3 separate regions of the Homo sapiens genome follow, and all the other regions are linked to region 2. Evidence: fine-mapped expression QTL. A gene starts in region 2. Each other region holds a variant in brackets. All regions are shown on one strand. Distances are from middle to middle.

The links. PIP is the estimated chance that this variant, and not a neighbour inherited with it, causes the effect.
Region 1: its variant is fine-mapped to the expression of LMO4 in whole blood (TOPMed, PIP above 0.99).
Region 3: its variant is fine-mapped to the expression of LMO4 in monocytes (TOPMed, PIP above 0.99).

Annotation. Positions count from the first base shown.
Region 1 is chr1:87,507,498-87,515,681 of GRCh38, forward strand. All of the region lies in intron 2 of LOC107985408 (a long non-coding RNA gene), which reads left to right. Among named protein-coding and RNA genes, the nearest start is that of LINC01364, 140 kb to the left of the region's middle. The variant A/G (reference allele first, on the strand shown) is at 4,468.
Region 2 is chr1:87,325,074-87,333,257 of GRCh38, forward strand. It overlaps LMO4 (LIM domain only 4), which reads left to right and starts at 3,807. Exons shown (of 5, transcript NM_006769.4): 1 at 3,807-4,171; 2 at 6,940-7,178. The coding sequence starts at 6,943. RefSeq lists silencers at 990-1,039, 3,009-3,178, 3,429-3,858, 4,782-4,871, 6,238-6,597 and enhancers at 3,717-4,294, 4,295-4,870, 4,436-5,981, 5,651-6,289, 6,290-6,928 and 1 more.
Region 3 is chr1:87,297,231-87,305,414 of GRCh38, forward strand. No RefSeq gene overlaps it. Among named protein-coding and RNA genes, the nearest start is that of LMO4, 28 kb to the right of the region's middle. The variant C/T (reference allele first, on the strand shown) is at 4,474.

The DNA of each region.
Region 1 (8,184 bases), 180 kb after region 2:
CTTGCTTAAAATATACTTCAAATATATCACATTTGACATCTTATGTCATTGATAGTAGAAGGAAATGATAACACTTAAAATCAATAAGTGTTTTTAATTTATTTTACTTATTATGGTTGTCATAATATTTTGACATGGAGGGCTGACATGTCAACCACACTGTTATCAGGAGGTAAGGCAATGGCATTAAACTGTCTCACCATCCGTGCTACTGTTTCAGCATAAAGTGGGCCCAGGGGGAAAATATAGCTAAAATCTCCAAGGAAGTATCTGCTTATGAAGTCAATACAGGTCATCACTGAATAAAGCAGCCTGAGCTCAAAACAAAAGCTGAGGGAAAGAAGTCTACACTCTAATCTGTTATCTTTTCTCCCAAAGGATTTAACAATAATAAGAGCACTAAAAATGTGTGAGTGCTGTGTGCCAGACTTGTGCAAAGTGTTCCACATATTTTATCTCGTCTCCTTTAAGAGGTGAGGTACTTTTACATAGCAAAACCCAGGTTTGAATGAGAGTCTGTGTGATTCCATGCCTGGCTCTGTTCTCGGATACCAAAGCCATCACTATTCTGTATGGTTTGGAACGAAAATGGATTCTGACTTCTGGATCCCACTTTCCGCCCAGAATCGTGCCTTAGTCCTAAGTCCTGGTCACCTCCTACTGCTGGATGGTATTGGAGTAGGACTTGCATGTGGACAGTGGGTTGTTACAACATGCTTTTGTACGCCTGGAGAGGGTAGGCTTGAAGGCAACTAATGCTCTTCTCTTTGTCTCTAAGCATTAGAGATTAAAGGCAGATTCAAAAGAAATTGTAAGAAAGGAGGACTTGAGAGCATGTGTTTTTCTGCTATTTAGGACACAGGCAAAGCCAAATTTTTTTTTAAAGGCTAAATGTAGGTTTGACCCTGCTTGAAGTAAGCACCAAAGCAATGAGTAATAGATGAGACTTGGAATCTGATAGCAGCAGCATTCTCTATGCCCAGCTAATTAAAGGCCAGTAAAGAGCTCCTGGTGGGCAGGGCTGATGTCTTCTATACTGTAGTCCCTGTTTTGTACAGAACGGGTGCCCAACCAGGATTTGTTGAATGTAGTTTTTCATCCATAGCCAAGAATCAGCAGCTTGTTCTTATCTTAACTCCTCTTTTCTTGGCTATTGGTTTGCTTATAAAATGTTTTTGCTTTTCCTGAAGACTTAAGAATTAGCCTTGAGGACAAAAAGGTAGTCATTTTTTAACATAATATTTATGTAATGTTATTTTTATGGACAAGGCTCTGTGTTAGGCACTAGGGATAAAGCAGCAGTGGGGCCGGGTACAGTGGCTCACGCCTGTAATCCCAGCACTTTGGAAGGCCGAGGCGGGCAGATCACTTGAGGTCAGGAGTTCAAGACCAGCCTGGCCAACATGGTGAAACCCCCGTCTCTACTAAAAATACAAAAATTGCTGGACGTGGTGGTGGGCACCTGTAATCCCAGCTACTCAGAGGCTGAGGCTTAAGAATTGCTCAAACCTAGGAGGTGGAGGGTGCAGTGAACCAAGATCATGTTACTGCACTCCAGCCTGGGCGACAAGAGCGTGAAACTCCATCTCAAAAAAAAAAAAAAAAAAAAAGCAGCAATGAACAAGATGGTCAAGCATGGAAGGTAGACATCAGTCAACTTATCAGACAATTATCTGATTACCATGGTGATAAATCTTATGAAAAAGTATAGATTGTTATGGGTGTTTAGGAGAACTTGACCTAAATTAAGAGATCTGTGAAGGCCTTCTTGGAGAAATGACGTTTGAGCTGAACTATTTATTAAGGATGAACAAGAATTAATCAGGGCAAGTGGAGTAGGGAAATGGCAGGAGGGAGGGTGGTAAACAAACAATGCAAGGAGAGAGAGCGCATTGGTGAGAATGCTTCATCAGAAGGAGCTTAGTAGGGTTCTAAAATACAAATCAGATTAGTGTGGCTGAAATGCAGGGTGGAGAACCATGCAGCAAGATGAGACTTAAAAAAACAGTTAAGACTTTTTGGTTGCAAACATAAAGGAATTTATTGGCTCAATAAACAGAATGCTTCAGAGGTAGCTTGGCTCTACTCATAACTTTAACAAGAGCTCTTTATTGCTCTCTAGTTTTCTTGGCCCTATCTCCCCCACATATTGACTTGTGTCTCCTAAGGTAGCGAAGTAACTGCAGCAGCTCCAGCTTTCATACCTGCCTTCCATACCATCCAGAAGAGAAAGAAACTTGTTATGGTATTCCTAGTACGAGGCCTGAGAATCACCCTGATTGGAGCAGTGGAGGTCACATGCCCTGTCTTGAACCATGCACCGTGTTGAGGAGGCAGGAATGGCCTGCTTAGCCTGGCCTGGGCCAGATGGTCTATCTCAGGAGCTTCGGGAAGAGTCAGCTTCCCTGGAATCACAGAGATTACAAAACAGAAATCAGGGCTGCTAGGAAGTGCAGAATGGATGATGGTGGGGCCACAGTGATCACTGCAAGGTTGAAAAGGTGAAGACAGGCCTGTGCTATAGGATTTGGGACTTCTTAAAATGACAGGAAGTCATTAAAGGATTTTCAGTAGGTCAGTAATGTCTTTGGTTATTCAAAAACATCATTGTGAACTCTACCTTGATGTGTCTGTAGTTTCTTTTTTTTTTTTTTTTTTTGAAACGGAGTTTCACTCTGTCACCCAGGCTGGAGCGCAGTGGCAAGATCTTGGCTCACTGCAACCTCTGCCTCCCTGGTTCAAGTGATTCTCCTGCCTCGGCCTCCCGAGTAGCTGGCCCGCCACCACGCCTGGCTAATTTTTGTATTTTTTAGCAGAGACGGAGTTTCACCATGTTGGCCAGGCTAGTCTCGAACTCCTGACCTCAGGTGATCCACCTGCTTTGGCTTCCCAAAGTGCTGAGATTACAGGCGTGAGCCACCACGCCCGACTGATGTGTCTGTAGTTTCTAAGAAAACCATTGTCAGATAAATAAATCATTATGTTAAGAGCAAAATGCAACTCATTTTCTAGTTTTCCTAATAATAATAATAATTCTTATTAGTCTTCTAATGTTAATAACAGGCTAATAATAGTAATAAGCCCGCCACAGTGAAAAGAGATTTACAAGCATTATCTCATACAATCTTGACTATAATCCTGGGAAGTAAGCCTGATTATTATCCCCATGTTAGTGACAGGGAAGCTGAGGTATGGGGAGATCAGGTGATTTACCCAGGGTTACATAGCTAGTAAATAGCCAGACAATAGCTGTGTGAATCAACATATTGTGTTATTCCCACTAAACTCTGTGATGTCATGGGGGTGGGGAAAACTTTTTATTTACAGTTGCTCCTTGATAAATTGATTCCAGGATGCCCACGGATACCAAAATCCTCAGGATGCTCAAGTCCTTTGTATAAAATGACTTAAGATTTATGTAATACCAGCCGGGCACAGTGGCTCACTCCTGTAATCCCAGCACTTTGGGAGGCCGAGGCGGGGGGATCACGAGGTCAGGAGATCGAGACCATCCTGGCTAACACAGTGAAACCCCGTCTTCACTAAAAATAAAAAAAATTAGCCCGGCATGATGGCTAGCGCCTGTAGTCTCAGGTACTAGGGAGGCTGAGGCAGGAGAATGGCGTGAACCCGGGAGGCGGAGCTTGCAGTGAGCGGAGATCGCGCCACTGCACTCCAGCCTGGGCTACAGAGCGAGACTCCGTCTCAAAAAAAAAAAAAAATTTGTGTACTACCTATGTACCTCCTCCTGGATACTTTAAATCATCTCTACATTACTTGTAATACCTAATACAGTGGAAATGCTATGTAAATAGTTGCTATATTGTATTTTTTATTTGTATTATTTTTATTGTTGTAATGCTAGTTTTTATTATTTCCCAAATATTTTTTATCTGAGGTTGGGTGAATCCCCTATGTGGAACTCATAGGGATAGGGAGGGTCGACTGTGTTTGACAAACAATTATTGGACAAAGCCTTGTGCTAGGAATCAAAAGTATCAACTGGGCAGTCAGATTGCATAGAATCTGCCAGAATTTAAAAAAAAATTTAGTAAAATATACATACCGTAACATTTGCCATTTTAACAATTTTTAAGTGAGTGATTAAGTGGCATTAATTACATTTACAATGTTGTGCAATCATCACCATCATCTATTTCCAAAACTTTTGCATCACCCCAAACAAAAACTCTGTAACCATTAAGCAAAACCTCCTCCCCCTAACCCTTGGTAAACTCTAATCTACTTTTTGTCTTTATGAATTTGCCTATTCTAGATATTTTAAGTGGAATCATACAATATTTGTTCTTTTCTGTCTGGTTTATTTCACTTAGCATAATGTTTTCAAGGTTTATTCACGTTGTTGCTTGTATCAGAACTTCATTCCTCTTCATGGTTCAGTAATCTGCTAGAAATTTGAAAAAACTATTTTTGTCAGTTCAGTGATTACAAAATATTTGAAGTTGA[A/G]TAACTATAATTTTAAGCAAGGATTGCACTCTAGTTTTCTACTATCCCTATGATACCCTATTGTCTTAAAATTAGTAGCCTGCTTGCACTTATTAACACTGTCTAGCCCAATTCAGAAGGCATCTGTGGTTGCAACAATCATCCCTGTGATTTGGACTGACAAGCTCTTCGAGATTAATTACACTGAGTCCTCTCCTAAAGAAGGTAGAAACTTGTCTTTGTACTTCTTTTTGCCATCACCTATTAGCACTGTGCTTTCTATAATAGATGCTTACTAAATATTTGTGAATACAAATTTAAATTCAGTTTATCAAATCTGTATCAAGTATTTATAACGTTCTAGGCACTGTGCTAATGGTTAGGGTTACAATAAGGAGGTAGTTCCTGTCCTCTTGGACACTATGCTACAGGTGGACAATAATGATGATGAGAGCCAGCCATCTTAAAAATAGCAGTGTCTTCAATTTTTATAGGTTTTTGTTTCTAAACATATATTAGCCCATTTATTGCTATGATGTTTGGCATACATTTACTTTTGAAAACTAGTGGCTATTTTTTAGTTTATTCCAAATGGAACAAGTTGGAAGAGATTATTGGTTAACCACAAGATTTTGAGGTTTGATTTCACGGGGTAGTAAATGATGAATTAATTCTTTAAGAAAAAGGTTTCTTTAAGTCTAAAAATAGTTCTTATAAGGTCATTGTTTCTCAACTAAGTTGGAAGATGTGCCAATTTATGCTATGCTCTAAGAATCTTTAACTTTCCTGCCATTTCATGAACTTAACTCTTTTGATAGCTCCAGGATTTAAGTCTTAAAGGCAGCTTAAAACAAAGCCCCGAGCACATTGCCCTTGTCTTTTCATGTGTACAACTGTCTGTCCCTAGGTCAGTGAACGATAGTTGTGAAGGTTCTTAGAGAGTGAACAGAGTTTCAGAGCTTTCTTGAGTAGGTGTCCTGAGTTCACCAGACTTGCTGTCATCTGGAACTGTTCTACTTATTTGGTTGTCAACAGCATCCTAGTGGAAAAGAGGATAATGCAACCATAGCTGCCACACAGCCCTCAGGAACTTTCCATCTTGCTATGTAGCTGAAAGTGTTGGTCTCTGTCTTCATTTGTCATGAGCCTCCCAACTCTGGAGATCAGTGGAAAGGCCATAAATGGAAAGAGCCAGCATTTAGTCAGTAAGGTGGCAGAGATGAGATGGTGTCTTTCAGAATTTTCTATTAAGCAGTTAGTCCTGTGTCATTACCAAGTAAGGATTAAAGAGGCCTATGAAAAGCCACAGACTAGCATCGTTTAAAGGATCCAAATGCAAACCATAGTTACAAATGTGCTTTTTGTCAAACATTAGGAAAGAAAATGTACGACACTACTAAGAAAATGGTGCAGAAGGCAGAGAAGACTCTTGGATTGGGAGGAAATTCCAGTTCAGTCTGGTTTATAGAAACTTCAACCACAAGCTCTTTTCAAAAGGATATCAGGATTCAAGCATTACATCATCTAAATAAATTCTCATTGGATGTTCAGTCCCTGACTGGCTGGAATCGGGTTCCCTTTATTTAACCCTTTCCCAGCCAAGACATAGCCTGTCCTAACTTTGAGAATGTATCTTTCCTGTTATTTGCAGCAGCATTTAGCATTTGAGCAGAACGCATGTGAAGAAAGTTGCTTTCTATAAACCCCCCACCTCAGTTTAAGTTTTTATACTTAGTATGTCAAAAAAGTTATTTCAAATGCTTTGTTGCTATGTAATTGCAAAAGCAGCATTACTGAGAGAAATGCTTCAATAAAGCCTTTGGAAAATAGAGAACGTCAAGCCATTATATGATTACGTTTCCTACACCCCAGTCCTCTTTCTCTTATAGTTACACTCCTACCCTCTGGTTCAACATTTTTGTCAGATTATGTGTTTTACCTGGTCATTATGGATGGATATTAAAATTACAGGCTTATAACTAAGCAACCATTTGCAAAAAATGAAGTAACATACCATGGCCACCAAAGAGACATGTAAGTGTTTTGGCTAAAGGGTGACAATTTTATTTGGGTATTTCACACTTTATTGAGGAAAGAGTGTTGATATAGTTAATGATTTCAAAAGTATACCACTCCGGAATCGTCCTGCAGTCTTCCTGTCTTTTCACTGGATGCATAAATGGAATCAGAGAGACACAGACAGTAATTGTGGGTCAGACTGATAAAATGACTCATAATAGCTTTGGAGTTGTGAAACTTAGGGCTGTTATCTTGAGTTCATATCACTTTCCCTCCCTTTTAAGAGTGTTATCGGAAATATCCATTTCTCAGTTAATAAATTAAAAATCCTCTCTATTTCAATCATTTTTGGTTTTTATAACATCCCTGGAGATAAATGGAGACAACCCCAGGTATTGCAAAACCAGAACAAGAATCACAGGTTTAGAGGCATGAAGAATTGTACAGGATGGAAGAACACAGGGAGGAGAACATGGGCATTCTGAGCTCACACCTGTTTGCGGGAGGGCTGGATGCTTAGATATAACTGTGCCAGCCAGGACAGAAGGGAGGAAGGAGCTGCATCTTGGATTTGTCAAACATGTGCTTACTCTCCCTCCTGGCTTCATTACTACACAAAAGATGATAAGACTTGACACCACCAGTCAGGATTTTGTCTTCAAAGATATCAAGAGGAGAGTGGGAGAGTGAAACCCCCAGGGCTGACCTTCAGAGGAGATGAGAAACTCAAAGAGTGAGTATGAAAGGGTAGAAAAATTAGAGTGGTTGGGGAGTATTAGCAGTTTCTTTACCTTTTCTGATACAGGGCCTCACACGTCAACTGATGCAGAATTGGCAGGGGGCTCAGGATGATACCGTGTTTAATACTGTAAAATTAAGTGTGTTTGAAAGAGCAAAGTTTATATATTCTTTACCTGGCTCAACAAAATTCCCTTGTCACCTCTGAAAACCATTTTCTAGAATGCAGGCTCCCTCTAGCCCAAAGCTTAAAATTATCAGTCATATTGAAAAGAAGAATGAAAACAAGTCCTCACACTGCTGTGTATTTGATTCTGGTTTAGAAATCCATTATCTTTAAAATATACCCATGTTGTCAGTCAGGTTCCTCAGGAAGAAGTTTCTGGGAGAGCACTGGGTAGTGAGTGCCCTCGCTTTGCAGGGAAGGAAGGGAACAGGACTCAGGAGAGCGAGAAGTCAAATAGTGATGCAGTTACAAAAAGCCTAGGCATCTTGTGGCCCTGCTCCTTTGGGGACCTCTGGAGCTGGGATAGCTCTGCAGAGTTGCCCTGTATTGGGGCTAGGGGATCACATTGACTCATCATGAGATGTGGGTGGCCCTAGGGGATGGGGTATCATCCTAGGTAAGGTGGCTATCTAAGGCAACTCCTAGAGAGCGACTCAGCTGAGCACTATGTATGGTCAACCCTTTTGGTGGCCGAGGGAATGAGTCTTAGTCTCAGTAGGGTGGATATGGGCAGCACACCACAGCATCCACTACAATGAAGATAAAGGGTCTCAGCAAAATTCTGGGATTATTCAAAATTATCTAAGATTATTAAAAACTCTAAGATTTTTCAGTCTTTTCAAAAATTGCCAAAGTAAGCCCAGGGTGCCAAATTGCCAGTGTAATCTCTGAGCCATTGAAGTTTTCTTTATCTTTGAAGATAAAGCAAATTGATATGTAGCACTCCATTGCATCTTTAAAGAAAACCTCAGTGG
Region 2 (8,184 bases):
AGGGATTCACCTGCCTCGGCCTCCCAAAGTGCAGGGATTATAGGCGTGGGCCACTGGGCCTGTAAACTCCTATTCTTAAATGAAGCAGCAGGTCCGACTATACTTACTGTGCCATACACCCTGCTGCTCAGACGACAACGCCACCACAGAAAACTGGCCCAGGACCTAACCTGCCCTTCCTCTTCCTTGGGTTTTTTCTGTTGGTAACTACTGTTCCCTTTTCTCTCCACACCTTTTACACTCTGGAATTGTTGTCCTAGACTCAAGCTTTTTGTATTCACGTTGGAGGAAACTGAATATCAAGGGATCTCTGTGATGGCAGCAATAAAGTTGAGCAGATTTTTAAAAATTTTCCTTCCTAAAAAGACTTTCTTCAAAAACGGTTTTGCATTGACTTTAAAAGGACAGAATATTTTTTCCTGAGAAAGAGCTGGGGCATGTTGTCTTGGAGGTCATATCAGCATCAAATAGCCTAGACTTTCTCCAGACATTAAAGGCTGCATAGGTCTGTGTAGAACCTCTGGCTGTCCATGGGAGATTCTTAGCGAACTGTCACTTGGAGAAAAGAATGATTATGATTGAAGGACATAAACGAGAAAGGAAGCTATGAACAAATAATTTTGGGGCAAGTGGAGAAAATGACGGCTTGATCTAGGAGCAGTATGGTTCCCACATTTAATTAGGATTCAAGAAAGAAACGATTTACATTTATCTTTCTTTTCCAAAGCCCCCTAATCTTATATCTCATTGCAGATGAGTAGGATGAATGATGAATGTGTGATATCAGCAGAGGTTTCGTCAACTGTGGGGCACAATATAACATTATTTCGAGTTAGGCAATTTTACTTCATACCAGGAATATTACTTTATGCACTGTTTTTAATATTTGTTTGAAGAATATCCGAATACAGAATTTCTTTACCCATACTGAATTTGTGTGTGTTTACAAGGTTTTTGTGTTTCGCATCAGTGGAAATAAAAGATTGACGTTGCTACCCACTCAACCAGGCATTTTCAGACCACAAATCAGGATGAGAAAGGACTGCTAAACGCAAAGAATGCAGAAATAAAGATTACCCAGAGGTGGCGCTGTGGTAAAAGTACACCTGAATTTTGATTACAGTGAATGTATTTACTCCCTACCTCTCAGAAGAGAGACTGTTAGCCATTATCGCTTTTGTATTTCTATAAACACACATCAGCAAATAAAGCTCTCTGGTAATACACTCCCATCCACTCCAATCTACCAGGACATGTTTAAAGACCTCACTCCGCACAGAATTAGAGCTGAAGCACTAAAACCACCTCCTAAAATGTAGGCCCTGTAGCCTAGAGCTCTGTTATTCAAAGTTTTATCCATCTCACTCTCCTTCCTTCCACAAACACCACCGGGATCCTCTGGATAATCACTCAATGATAGCTGAACATGTGTCTGGTTAAATTTCTAACATTTCCTTCAGGAATTAAGATTTCGTTTTAGTGCATATTCTTCAGGAAAAATCCTGAAAAGTACCACAATTCGTTATACATCTATGCATTATGTGCTCTATCTAAGAAAATCATTTTTAAAAAGAAAAAATAAAGACCATTTGGCTTAATTCTCTCATTTGTGGATGAGAAAATTAAGGCCCAGAGACGGAAATTTACTTGCACATGACAAATCATAACTTAATTGTAGCCCACTAAGATCTTGTGTCATCTCCTTTTATTATAAATTATTTAAAAAGTGAAAATGAACCAGGGGATTCAAATGTATTATTTGTTTATGGTGTTCCTCTCCTCATCTGGTTTAATTGAGTTTTCTTGACTAACCTTCAAGCAGCATTACATCTTTTCTAAGTTGGTCCTCTTTAATCATGCCCATCTGTAGCTGTTTTCTGTGTAGGACATTTTAATTACTATTATAGTTTTAATGACTTTTTTTTAAAAAAAGTTTTTTATATGTGCACAAGGTGAATTCATCATAGCAGTGCAACTTTAAATACAAATCAATAAAATTAATTCATTTAATTTTAAGGTGCTAGAATTAAAAAATGAGTATTTGAATTGATATTTAAAATGCCCTCTACCTGACTGTATGGGCAATAATTATTCTTTCTTATGCAGCCTTATTAATTTTGATGGTTTGAAAGACAGAAATCCCCCAAATAGACACTAAAACCCTAAATGTTCAACATCTGCATTGTCTCGCCAGATTCTCCTTCAGGTTCCTTTCCTCAATCTAGCAGTACTGTGTGTAACACAATATGAAAACTTGCCCCACAAGGCTGGTTTTACTTAATGATACTTAGCAGAAGGGCTTTGCACTTTCATGATAATTTCCACCAGAAAAATCTCTCTGGAACTTACTAACAATAATCAGGCCTAATATTAGCCTCAGTCTGGAGATTTATTTAACCTATTTGGCAGAGTAGATAAAGTCGAATGCCTAGGTATTCAAGCATCTAGGCTGTGCTTCGGCCTTGGAAAAAGACTCTCAGGCTAGCACCCTAAAAGCATTCCTCAAAACTTGATTTATACTAGAAGTGACATTTCTTACTCTCTAGAGGCTGTGAGATTGCAAATCTTGCAATTACTTCCATTGCTTTTGGGGGCTGTGAGAATTTCCGCCTCTCATCCTCCACAGTGAGGAGGGTAGTCGGGAAAGGCTTTCTCCCTTAAGTTTTCGTCAACTTTGAAAATAAGGACTGTGCTCCCTACATCACCAGCAATTGACAAGGATCCAGGAAATGCCTGCTAGGCACTTTCAAACTCGGAAAAATGGGAGTATGAGGGAGGCTAAGTAGGCAGTATTTAGCTAGCAACTATTATTTCCTTTATGTTTCTACCTTGTTAACTAAGCTTCCACTACGGTTCATAAATCTCCAATATCGTGAATTAAAGAAACAACAACAAAAATCCTCTTCTGTGTGCTTGTGCGTGAGGGGATAGAAGTCCACTGCCCTAAGATGCAGGACTTATCTTCCCAAACAGGAAGAGACCCATTTCTGAGAAAGATGGTAAGTTTCCTAAGGGTCTCCTCTCAGATAGAGGGGATGGCAGTCCCCGAGGGGCGAGCGGGCGCGGGTCCTCAGGGTCCCCGTGCGCTGAGAAGGCAGGTGAGGCCCCGCCCTGCGTCTCGACTCCGGATCCCGGGTCGCGAAGGGCAGCCCAAGCGGGTCCCCGGCCCCAGGCGCCCGGGTCACTTCACCCCACCTGATTCGGGCCCTTCCCTTCTCCTCTGTCGGCCAGCTCTGCCGCCTCGCTCTCTCTCCCGCCCCCCGAGTCTCGTTTCAGTCATCCCTTTGTCCTTCCCCGGATTGGCAGGTTTTATTATTCCGCCTGAACAATCCGGCCGCCCAGTGGCTGAGGGTCGCTGACGTCGGAGGCAGAGCCGGGGAGTAGTTGGGATTTTGCTCTGTCAGTAACACATGTGTAAGAGCCGCGGAGGGAGCGAGCGAGCCGGCTAGAGGCCAGCGCCGCCGCCGCCGCCGCCTCCGAGCCGGGCAGCAACAGCCCCGGCAGCGGCGCAGGCTCCAGCGCGCCGGGCCCGGCCGGCCGCAGCCCCCGACGCCTGGGTGCGCCTGCCTGCCGGCCTCCGCACCGTCCGCCGCCGCTCCCGGGGCTGTTGTGTCTGCGACTGCTCCCGGCCGGAGGTGCAGGGAGCTCAGCCGAGCCGCCGCTGCCATCCCGGAGCGAGCAAGCGAGCGAGCGCGCGGGAGGGAGGAAGGCGGCGGCGGAGGAGGAGGAGGAGCGGGAGGAGCGCGGGCGGGGGCGGGGGCCCCCGGGCGGGGGAATATACAAAGTGAAGCCACATTGCCAAACTTGCAGCAGCGATTGCAGCAGTTGCTGCCGCTGCGCCGCGCCTGAAGCCGCGCCGCGCGGGCCGAGGGCTCCTGCAGCTGCTCGCGCGCAGTCGGAGGCGGAGAAGGACGAAGACTGAGACTGACACTTCTGCTCCCGGCCGCCCGGCACTTACGCGGGGGCCCCCCAACCCGCCCCAGAGCAACGCGATTTAAAAAAAAAAAAAAAGCCGCCCTTAGCCCCCTCCTCCCCTTTCCTGCTTCTGCGAGAACTCCCTCCCTCCCTCCAGCTCCGCCAGCCCAGGCGCCCCTTCCCTGGAAGCCGAGCGGCTTCGCTCGCATTTCACCGCCGCCGCCTCTCGCAATATTGCAATATAGGGGAAAAGCAGGTAAGGGGGCGGGTGGAGAGCCGCGGGCCGGGAGGTGGGAGAGGGAGGGAGGGGGTCGATTCGGGCCAGGGCTGTTTTCTTTGGCTTCCTTCCCCTGACCGTCCCAAATTGCAAGTAAACAATACGTCGGCTTAGATAAAGCGCGAGTCTGAAACTACCGAGGCCGGCCTGCGAGCTAGCGCGGAGGGCAGCCCCGGGCCGCCAGCTTTGTAGCGGTTCCTGCTTACAAAAGGGCTCTTCTTGGAAACGGGGCTGGTGGGGACCGTAGAGGGGGTGGGGATATTTCTAGTTCATAAGGGAAAGGCAAGGGGTGCTTAGATGAGGATTTTAAGTATGAGAAGTAGTGTGTTTGGGGGGGTGGGGGTGGGGATAGTCACGATACCCCCCCTCCCTTCTAGTAAACACTATTTTTGAAACAGTGGCAGGAAGGATCTAAGTGAGCAGGATTCGGTATTGCTGGTTCTTTTAAAAAAATTCTTCTTGGCTTATAAGTCTTTTGTTCCAATCCAGGAGAAATACGGTGAATCACCTAATTAAAATCAAGACATGAATTAAGCATCCATTTTTGTACTACAAATTGCCAGCGTTACGTTTGTCCCTCCCTTGGTCTCCATTAAAAAACACCAGAGACGTTGTTAAAGGGGGGCAGATTTTGCCTCTAGCTGCCAGTTCTGCTTTCTATTTCACTGACTATCCCAGGACCTAAATTGCTTGGCTATGTAATTACTAGAGTATAAGCCTATTTAACTTAAAAGCTTTCTTTTTTTTTTTTTTTTTTCCAACTCTAAATGAAACTTGATGAGGGCCCGTCCTTAGTTATCAGGGGAGTCAGTTTCTGGTCAGTCTTCTTGATTCATCTCTTTTAGATTTAATCAGCATTAAGGTATTGCTTGTCCTTAAGAGCTTTAGCTAATGGGGTTACTGGATGCTTTTCTCAGTGTAATGTTTCCTTTTCAAAAAAAAAATACATATATATTTACCTCTCACTAAAGATGGGGGCGGGGAAGAGCTTGGAATCTCCTCCCTCACTCTCCTTTTAAAAAGGAATTCGGAGCGATTAAAACGTTGGGGGAAACAGTTTAAAGATCTAGGGCAGGAAATGCAGATTCATTTGGGTTAGGGCTGAAATTGTAACAAAAAGCAATTCCTCGAGTAAATGCATCAGATAAATCAATTTACATAAAGGTATGATGCATTCGGATAAATGCAATGCTAATGGGTTTTAGAGTGGTCCTGTTTCCAAAGTCTCAGGGTTTTGTTACAGCTTAATTGGTGCAGTTCTTATTCTGGTTTATTGTGCGGTCACTGGACACACGTTCCGGGACTCTTTCGGAGGAAATGTGTTTAAAATCGGCCTATTTAAGGAACCCGAGTCCTTGTTTCGTTCCTTCCTCGTTTTTTTTGCAGCAGCCAAGTTGGGCCGGGTACAGGCAAAGTTCGCCTTCTTCTGAGGTATCAGCTGAATGTCTTGAGCAGATAGCCGGGAGCCTCAGGGGGAGCCCACACTCTCAGCTTACAGAGGACAAAGACAATACAGGCTGCTTAATTGGCAGTAAATAACTTGATCTTTTTACAGAATAAGTGACTAGAGGAACACTAGGACTTTATTGGACTCGGGATTGAAGGCAACAAATTAATCGGTTTAGGCTAAGCTTTATAAATTGATTCCTATATTATATCCCAGTTGCATCTCTTGTGGCATTCATTAGAGTGGGGAATTCTTTTTTAAAGCAGTTTTTGGTGACAGCAGGACGGGCTCGAATTTAACTTGTGCATCCCTTAATGGTGCCTTCTCGCACATTATCTGTAACGCCGCCCGCCCCCCCCCCCCCCCCGCCCTTTGGAGGAACAAAGCTTTAGCATTTAAATTGCTGATCAAGGGCAGATTAGTGAGACCAAAGTGGAGAGTGTTTGTATAGGAAGTTAACAGGCATCCTAAAGTTCAATGATCTATTATTCTTGCCTGTGTCCTGAAAACCCAGAGAAAACACTCATTGATCTTCAAAATGAAATGAGATTTGGAACAATAATGGGAGATGGCGGTCACCACAATGGCATGTGAAAGGTGCTGCTTAAAATACGAAAAACCAGTTTCGCAACTTTACACACTGCACCCACCCCTCCCGTCACCTTGCCTTCCCTCCCATCACCACGCTCTCCGTCTCCCGTCTGCCGGTCCCTCCCTCGTTCCCTTTCGGAAAACCGAACTATTTCCAACTTGTGAACTGCAGCTGCACTTCCCGGGGCAGAACCCGGGAGGGAACGAGGCTCCGGCGGGGCCGCCGCCTCCCCACTCCTCTCGGCTCTGTCCCGGGGCCCGGCGGGGGCTGGGGAGGGGCCGGGCGCGGCGGTGGGTGGGTTTGACCCTCATTTGCTGGAGGCGGGCGGCGGAGGAGGGGAGGAGGGGGCAGTGGGCGGAGGCGGGGGCTGGGAGGAGGTGCCGCGAGGGGTGGAGCGCGCAGCGGAGCCTGCTCTCGGAGTTTTGACAGTACCGGAGCTGAAATTGTCAGCGGCGGCAAGCGCAGGAAAGTTGAGAGGAGCTCGTGGCCCCAGAACAAAGCTTGAGAAAAGTAAACAGGCGGCTGCTGCCGGCGAGCCTCCCTTCTTCCCTCTCCCCCTCAGCCTCCTTCCCGCCCTTGCCCTGCTGTTTCCTTCCAGCAGCTCCGCGGGGAGGAGGGGAATGGGCTTGCTCTCTCTCCGGCGATTACTAACTTTTGCATCGCCCCTGTTTTGTCTTTCTCTCCCTGTCCCCTTCCCGCCCTCTGCAGACCATGGTGAATCCGGGCAGCAGCTCGCAGCCGCCCCCGGTGACGGCCGGCTCCCTCTCCTGGAAGCGGTGCGCAGGCTGCGGGGGCAAGATTGCGGACCGCTTTCTGCTCTATGCCATGGACAGCTATTGGCACAGCCGGTGCCTCAAGTGCTCCTGCTGCCAGGCGCAGCTGGGCGACATCGGCACGTCCTGTTACACCAAAAGTGGCATGATCCTTTGCAGAAATGACTACATTAGGTAAGACTTTGCTGTCTTTCCTGGAGATGGGGGGAAGAGCAATGGCAAGGCCAAAGGTTAACAGGGTTGTGAGGAAAGGAGTAGGCGTCTACGGGGAGTATGCAGCCTTCACCTCAAAAATCTTCTAGTTGGCGGAATTTAAGGGGTTCAGGAAGCATGTGTTAGTCTTCCAATATCTGATGGCAAATTCATGGCAAATGCCATACTAAGTAAAGACCATCTGGTGGGACTGGGTCATTAGATGTGCAAAGGTTGAGCACCCTCTGGTCCTAGAGTTTAAGTAAGTGGTCAGCCTCTACTGGACTTCAGGCTAAAAGCAAACATCCCAAGCGGGAGTTAAGCTGCGTTCTTAAAACAAGGTAGGAACTCACAGAGGAACCCAGAAACAAAGGTTGACTTAAAAATACAAGTGTAGTTAGTGAGAAATGATTTGTCTATGGCGATGGCTTATTAACGATATTTACATAAGCATCTTGAAACTTTTTTGAGCGGAAGGCTGTGATTCGTTCTTTGTGCTCCTTGAGAAAAATGCTAATTATCCATCAGTTTAAAGACTTGTAATTCTTCTTATAGAGAAAAAAAAAGTCCCAAGAAATAAAACCTGGTGGTAATGTTTCTCTTCATACTGTTACTCGGAGGCTTGCAATAATTCAGTTAGTGTGTGGTTTGCGATGTAGAATTTGCAGTTTTTTTCAATTGAAGCATGTTCAGGTTTTGGGTTTTTTGTTGTCGTTTGTATCACTGCCCTTGATCCCCAAAAGAGATTTAGAAAAAGGCTATAGAATTATACTAATCTTGCATTTTAAAGCAATGTATAGGAACATTCATATGTCCATGTAAGCAGTCTTTTCCAACAAGTTGCAGTGCAATTAATGGAAAGAATTCAGGAGGTCAGGTGCCTATAGGATCTTTTCAGGTGAACTCAAGCTACTTAAACTCATTAATTTGAAAGGAGGCATTTGAAGGATTACACATTTAATTTGAGTAAATGGTTTGATAGACTGAT
Region 3 (8,184 bases), 28 kb before region 2:
AAAAAGACATACCCGAGAATGGGTAATTTATAAAGGAAAGAGTTTTAATGGACTCATAGTTCCACATGACTGGGGAGGCCTCACAATCTTGGTGGAAGATGAAGGAAGAGCAAAGGGATGTCTTACATGGCAGCAGGCAAGACAGAGCATGTGCAGGGGAACTCCTGTTTATAAAACCATCAGATCTTGGCTGAGACGGTGGCTGTAATCCCAGCACTTTCGGAGACTGAGGTGGGTGGATTGCTTGAGGTCAGGAGTTTGAGAACAGCCTGGCCAACATGGCAAAACCCTGCCTCTACTAAAAACACAAAAATTATCTGGGCATGGTGGTGGATGCCTGTAGTCCCAGCTACTTGGGAGTCTGAGGCACAAGAATCACTAGAACTCAGGAAGTGGAGGTTGCAGTGAGCCAAGATCATGCCACTGCACTCCACTCTGGGCGACAGAGTGAGACTCTATCTCAAAAAAATAAAATAAAATAAAATAATCAGATCTTGTAAGACTTATTCACTATCATGAGAACAGCATGGGAAAGACCTGCCCCCATGATTCAATTACCTCCCACTGGGTCCATCCCATGACATGTGGGAGTTATGGGAGCTATAATTCAAGATGAGATTTGGATGGGGACACAGCCAAACCATATCACAAGGCTTCTGCATTTTTTATTTTGAAAGCCCAGTTCAGGTCCCTTCCTCTGCAAATTCCTTCTGTGGACAGTATAATCAGCCAACCTCTGAGCCCCCACAGTCCTCTGTGTATATCTCTATTTAGCACTAATCACCGCTTGCTTTGTATCATGGTTACTTCTGTGTGTGTCTGTCTCTCCCACTAGACTCTAAGGTTTTTAGGGTCAGAGACCATGTCTTATTCATGTCCACATCTCCAGATGCAAGACCAGGACCTTACGCATTCAAGCTCTTAAAAATTTTTTGGTGAATTGAATTGAAAAACAGTGTGTTGGAATTGTGGGCTCCATTAATTATGTGCTACACGCTCCAAGTAGATCTCTCAGGAAGTCTGGGGGTCACTCCCACTCTGGCATTTAGAAACAGAGCCAGGCCACCTCCTATGTCATCTGTTCCTATTCTCTATTTCCTACTGCTCAAGCCACCAACAGCCTTCCTGACTGAAGCTTTCTTTTCTCGGTGTGTTTCAATTGCTGCAACGTGACCTGAGAAGTCCCTGGGGTGGGTCATGTGAGTTTCGTGAGTGATTGGAGTAGCCTTCTGCTATGATCTGAGTGTTTGGGTCTCCCCAAAATTCATACATTGAAACATAATTCTCAATGTGATGGTATTAGGAGTTGGGGCTTTGGGGGATGATTGGGTCATGAGGACAGAGCCTTGTGAATGGGATCAGTGCCCTTATAAAAGAGGCTCTAGAGAACTCCCCTGATGCTTCTACCACACGAGGACACATCTAGAGCCAGGCCCTCACCAGACACTGAATCTGTAGGTGCATTGATCTTGGACTTCCCAGTCTCCAGAACAGTGAGAAATAAATTCCTGTTGTTTATAAGACACTAATGTATGGTATTTTGTTACAGCAACTCAATGAGACTAAGACACCCTCTGTCATTGATTGGATTGGTGGCAGATGTAGCAGACTTGCTCCTCTCCCAAGTCTCCTTCAAATGACCTTTCCTGAGGCCAAAAATTCTGACCTGCAATTTTGAATTAAAAGCATTGTTTTCCAAAGTGTTCTAAACAAATGGGGGCATGGGATACGCTATCAAAGGCTCTATACCTGATGCTTACACCCGTGGCATAACTTGTTGGCAGCTTCATAGCAGAGAACAAGGCCCAGAAGGATGGGGACCTGGAGCTAGCATCCTCTGACCTGGGGTCTAGGTGTTGGGGGTGAGTGAAGAGAGGATTGTGTCAGCAAAGATGGCCGGGACATGGATAAGGCGGATGAAGCTGAGACTCCTAGGCAGGGCATAGGGAATGGAAGACAGAGAAGATGGGTGGTGAGGAAGAACGTCCCTGGGAGCCCTCTGCTTCCTTATTGTGCCGAGAGTAAACTTGGCTGAGGCCCCTCCTGGATTTCCAGCTGGTGGCTGAAGGTCACCCTGCAAAAGAAGGCACTTAATTCCCAAGTTGCTCCATTAAGGAGCAAAGAGGGAGAGAGGCAGTATACTCTGGCCATTAAAAGCTCTGACTCTGGGGCCTCACAGACTCAGGTTTTCATTCTGGATCTGCTAGGAACTAGCTCGGTGACTTAGGACAGTTACTTAACTCCTCTGTTCCTCACTTTCCTCATCTATAAAATGGGGACATACATAATGCCTCAGGAGGTTCCAAGGAGGATTAAACTTGGCTGAGATCTTCCATGGTAAGCACTCAATAAAAGGCAGCTAGTCTTACTAAAGGAGGCAGCTCCTGCTACTCTCACCATCTGTGCCTGTGTTCCACTGCAGACAGGACCAGACCAGCCAGAGAGGCAGTGATGGCAGCAGGCAAGCTAAAACTCGGGCCTACAGAATTCTCCAATGTTAGTCCCAGAAGGATTGGATTCAAAGTGTTATCTGATTCAGGCTTCCCTTTCAAGAGCAGAAAATAGGCCTAAAAAGGTCATATAGCTAACAGGAGGAAATAGGCCTAGGCAGATCATGTGGCTTGACATAGCCATATAGAGATGGCCACATAGCTGAGGAAGTCACAGGCAAGGCACTGGGAGCAGCAGGCTTTGTGGGCCATTTCCAAACCCATAGTAATCATCATCCTCAGAATAAAAGCCTCAAAATTCTATGCCCCATAGAAGGAGGTGGCTTTCAGATGGCAGATTGCTTGCAGGTTGGCTCTTTTAGGTGAGGATAATTCCTAGGCACTTACTCAGTGAACCTGGTCCATTTTTCTTCTTTCCAATCCTCTTCTCCTTATGGGGATGTTTTCATTGTTTTCTTTTCAGGCTGGGCTTAGCCCTGGCCTCTCCAGGCTTGTGGGTTTTCCCTTCCCCCGTCCTCCTCTGCCCTCCCTGGTTTCTACCAGGAATAGGCAGTGATTGAAATTATTGATTCAATCAGTTCATCCTCCTGCCGAGATGCATCTTGGCTGGATCACTAATTCCGGGGCCAAGCCTTAGCACAGTCCACTGGCTTCCCCTGCTCAGCGCCAGGGGCAATTGGAGCTGCAGAACCTCCTGGGGTATCATCAATGAAGCCTGGAGGATTTGACTGGTAATGGGCTCCTGGTTCTGAATCTGGCGCTGCAACTGAATCCGGGGAAACAGAGACACGTCCAGCTTCTCTGAAAGCCCACCAGCTTGGTCCATTGCAAACGAGGCTGACTTTCAAGTTCCTAGTTACAGTTCCCACTCACTGTTACAAGAAATCTCTCTGAGGATATTCTTTCCTATAGCATGGAATAATTTGGAATCACAAGAATGAAGACATTGCTGTTTCTCAAGTGATAATAAAAGCATCATCGTGGGGGCAATTTTGGCGGCCAAGTGACTGGACTTACTATAAATGCCTTCCTATTTTACTAGGTCTCTTCAGTTTCCTTGCCCGCCCTCATTTATTTTACAGGGATTCTGTGTAGCTGAAGTAATGTGCATGAATATTGCGTAACATTTTGTGGACGGATACAATATTGTAGAAATAATTTAATTGACGACCTGTAATGAAAAGAGCGCTGGGTAAGTAGCCTGGGTTGCAGTTTCTCTCTATATTTTTACATCACCAGGGATAGTGCTGTTGACATGAATAGGCCAGTATTGATTTCATTTAAAATTTTCAACATCTGAATGATGTGAGCAGTGATCTGTGGGAAGATACTGTGGAGTTGTCGGCATAGCCCCTGCTAACAAAATACCATTTAAAAAGGATTTTTCTATTAGCATTCACAAAGAGAAGAGAGAATAAAAAGGGTTATGAGAATGTTAAAATTTTCACTGACCAAAGAAATATGAAGTCACCATCTTCATTTTACTCTTAATTAATTCAGTTATTGGACCTTATATAAGCCTCTGTTAAATTCCTAAAAGAAAGCAGGCTGGGGCCTTGAGGTGGTTATATAGAATACTTTGTTTTCTAAAGGGAGTGACTTCAATCACCCCATGAGAAAGTCCCTGAAGGCAATCAGACTCCCCCAAGAAATGGATTTCAAATGCGGCAGCAACTCCTTAATGCTGCCCTGCTAATGAGTTCCAATTCAGTGGTTATGAGTTACCATCATTGAACAACAGTAGCACGAATTAGATTTTCAAACTTTCAGAGATGCAGTTTCTCAGGACCCCTGAGTCTACCAGTCAGATCATAGAAGGTTGAGAGGAGATAGATGCTGGGCAGGTGGCCCAAGGAGTGATTTTTAAAAGGCAATCCTGTGGTAAACTGGGGACACTGATTGGGTTCCATTTCTGGGTAGTGGGGGTTTGAGGTTCTCAGTTTGCCCAAGAGATAGGTTTGTTGTGAAATTATGGACCAAGGCAGAGGTTGCAGTGACCTGAGATTGCGCCACAGCACTCCAG[C/T]CTGGCGACAGAGCAAGACTCCATCTCAAAAAAAAAAAAAAGTATGGACCAAGTGGAAGTCGGCAGCTCCTGTCTTCATCCTTTTGTTGGCCTGGAGGTCAAGGAGAGGTAGAGGGACAATGCTGGCTGTGAAGTGCCTGGAGTGGCAAAAAGCCACCTCTTGAGCTTCTTCAGCCTTCCTGTCTTTCTAATGATGAGCTTCAGCTCAGGTATGGCAAAGACATTTGAAGAGAAAACTCAGGGAAGGAGCTTTCCAGAATCACTGGTAATGAGTCTGATAGAAGAGCTATCTGAATGCAGTGCTGCCCCGGCTGTGGATTCTTCCAGAAAGCTGGCCTCAGTTGGGCTGCTTTGGGCTATAGGACTCCGCTGCCTGCCTTGCCAAGCAGAGTGGGTATCTTCAACCTTGGATGAGGAGGCCCATGAAGGAGACCTGGACCAGTGTACACCGGGAGATGAAAGGGGCCTTGCTGGATGTTGTCCTGAGGGGAATGTACTAACCCTGGCTTCAGTTGTGGCAGCAACACAGAGGGAAGGGGCATGGGAGGGATAAAGATGAAAAGGAAGGCGAAGCATGAATACTAGTCTTCACCCGAAGAACAACTGGAAATCATGAAAATGTCTTAAACCAACAGAGACACGTCATTCTAAATGTGTCTGATAAAAGCAGTGCGAATATTTTTATTGACATTCTAAGAACATAACCTAGATTGATATACATAAATAATATATAGAAAAACTATGTATCATTTTTGTAGAACTCAATAAAGCTATTTTCATTTTGAATAGAAAAAAACAATTTGAAAACTTAAAAAAAAAACCACCACATTGGTTAGCCAGGCGCAGTGGCTCACACGTGTAATTCCAGCACTTTGGGATGCTGAGGTGGGTGGATTACCTGACGTCAGGAGTTCAAGACCACTTTGACCAACATGGTGAAACCCCATCTCTACTAAAATACAAAAATTAGCTGGACATGGTGGCAGGCACCTGTAATCTCAGCTACTTGGGAGGCTGAGGCAGGAGAATCGCTGGAACCCAGGAGGTGGAGGTTGCAGTGAGCTGAGATTGCGCCATTGCACTCCAGCCTGGGCAACAACTCCAAACTCCATCTCAACACTCCATCTCAAAAGAAACAAACAAACAAACAAAAAAAACAAGCAAACAAAAAAAACAAGCAAACAAAAAATGGCATTGGCTTCACATCACTGAAAAAGACTTCCAGAGAGGCTGCTCTAATCCTGACAGGTGCTGGCCAGGCATGTGCCTGGGGTACTTCTGTCAGACTGTTGTCTGTCCTAGTTTTGATTGTCCTCCCATCTGAGTCACAGAATGGGCAACAAAGCAAAAACTCCACCATAAATGCCTCCTCCGGAAGTTTTCCTCCAAAATTGCACGGCAAGCTCACACTCTGGAATGAAGCCACCCCATCGAATCGTGGCTAACCACCTGTGCTCAAGAGTCTCCTCCCACAACCTGCCACTGAGCCTGATGGTCCCACAGTCAGAGCCACACTGGCTCTGGAAGGTCCCCTGAGAGAGCCAGTAGGTCACGATTTAATGCTGGGGTAACCGTGGGATGATATTGTATGATATTATGTTCAGGGACCCAGGAATCCTGAAATCCTTTCTGATGAGGCACTGTCACTCTGAGGGAGGGAAAATGAGGGGGAACAAGAAATGAATGGACATTATACTTAATTATTAGCCAGAGTTTTGGCCTTCAATCCCAATGCAGAGAAATCTGGAAGGCTGGGCTGGACCGCATGGAAGGTGGACTCCCTCTGATGTGTCTCTCTCTCTCTGGGTAGCCTTAGATGGCAGCAGGCTTGAATGTTTGCTCTCTTTTCTTTCTCCGCACCCACGCACCAGTTTTGGAGTTTACCGTTAGGATGCTAGAAAAGGCTGATCCACTGTACAGCAGACAAGAACAAGGAACCAGAGAGACAGAGCAACTTTGCTCGCAGTGCCTAGCAGGGATCTGGCTCACCTTTTCCTGTGGGAAGCCCAGTGGGAAGTAGGGAGGGCATTTAAGGAGAGGAAAAAGTTGAGGAAAAGGGAAAGGGTAGCTGCCTCACATGGACACCACACCTTGCCACAGCAACGAAGAGAGCAAGATTTTACCAAAATGACTGAATTTTTAGCTGCTTGAAACCAGAAGAATGAGATCCTGTATCCTATATCTGACTAACCAACCTGATACCCCTGTCTTTGAATCCACATGTTGTCCCATAGTCCAGTTTCCACATTAGGCACCAACAGTTTATCAATGTGTCCTAAGGGTGGGACACTATAGTTAAGGTGATTTGGGGTGTTCCATGGACACAGTTATTAAAATATATTGCTTTGTTTAATAAGAAAGTTATTCCATTTAAAGCACTTTCAATCCTTCATATTAATTCTAGGAGACTATCTCAGTTGGTGCTATGTATCTTTAACACTTTTAAAATAATTTAGTTCTTTTTCTTAACAGAGGATAGGCCTCATCCTCAGAGCTCTCAAGCAGCTGCAATATGTAGCAATAATTTAAAAACATGTTTTTATTTTTATTTTTAAATAAATTTCATTAATTTAAGTGAAACAGGTAAGATAATTGTCCTCCTAGTTAATAATAATAGCCAAAAGCTATGTATACTTACCAGGGACCAGGAACTATGTGTTTAATGTATATTAACCCCTTTAGTCCCCAACACAACCCTATAAGATAGGTCTATTATTACTCCTATTTTACAGATGCAGAAGCTGTCAGTAATTTTTAACATCTCCGTTTTTGAAAAATATTTTTTAAAAGTTTCCATATTATAAATATGATGCATATTTTATTAGAGAAAAGCACTAAATATAGTTAATGAAAAAGAAGGATCATCATTAACACCTTGGTCTATAAGCTTTCTAAGCTTTTTTATATATACAGTTTGAATATCCCTTATCTGAAACGCTTGGAACAAAAAGTGTTTCAGATTTCCAATTTTTTTGGATTTTGGAATATTTTCATTATATATACCTATTAGTTCAGCATCCCAAATTTGAAAATCCAAAGTCCAAAATACTCTCATGGGCATTTCCTTTGAGCATCATGCTGGCACTCAAAAAGTTTTGGATTTTGGAGCATTTCAGATTTCGGATTTTCAAATTTAAAATGCTCAACATACACATATATACACATATGTGCAAATATTTTATTTTCAAAAATGAAAATGAGATCATATCAAATATATGGGGTTATTTTTGGTTTTGTTTGTTTTAAGGAGACAGCGTCTCATTCTGTTGCTCAGGCTGGAGTGCAGTGGCTCAATCTCAGCTCAGTGCAGCCTCAACCTCCTAAGCTCAAGCGATCCTCTTGCCTCAGGCTCTCGAGTAGCTGAGACTACAGGTGCTCATCACCACACCTGGCTAATTTTTTTAATTTTCTGTAAAGACAAGGTCTCACTCTGTTGCTCAGGCTGGTCTTAAACTCCTGGATTCAAGCGATTCTCCCGCCTCGGCCTCCCAAAGTGCTGGGATGACATGCGTCCACCACCATGCTCAGCCAAACATAGGATTTTGAAACTTCCTATTTCACTTAAATCTACTCTACTTTCCCTTACCTTAGTCCCTGTCTCTTTCTAAGAGGCAAGCTTGCTTGTTTCTGATTGGGAAACACTGAGGTTTCAATGGCAGACTCTAGCTTCCCTTTTTCTGAAGATTGTAAATGAAGGGTCTTATGACAGCT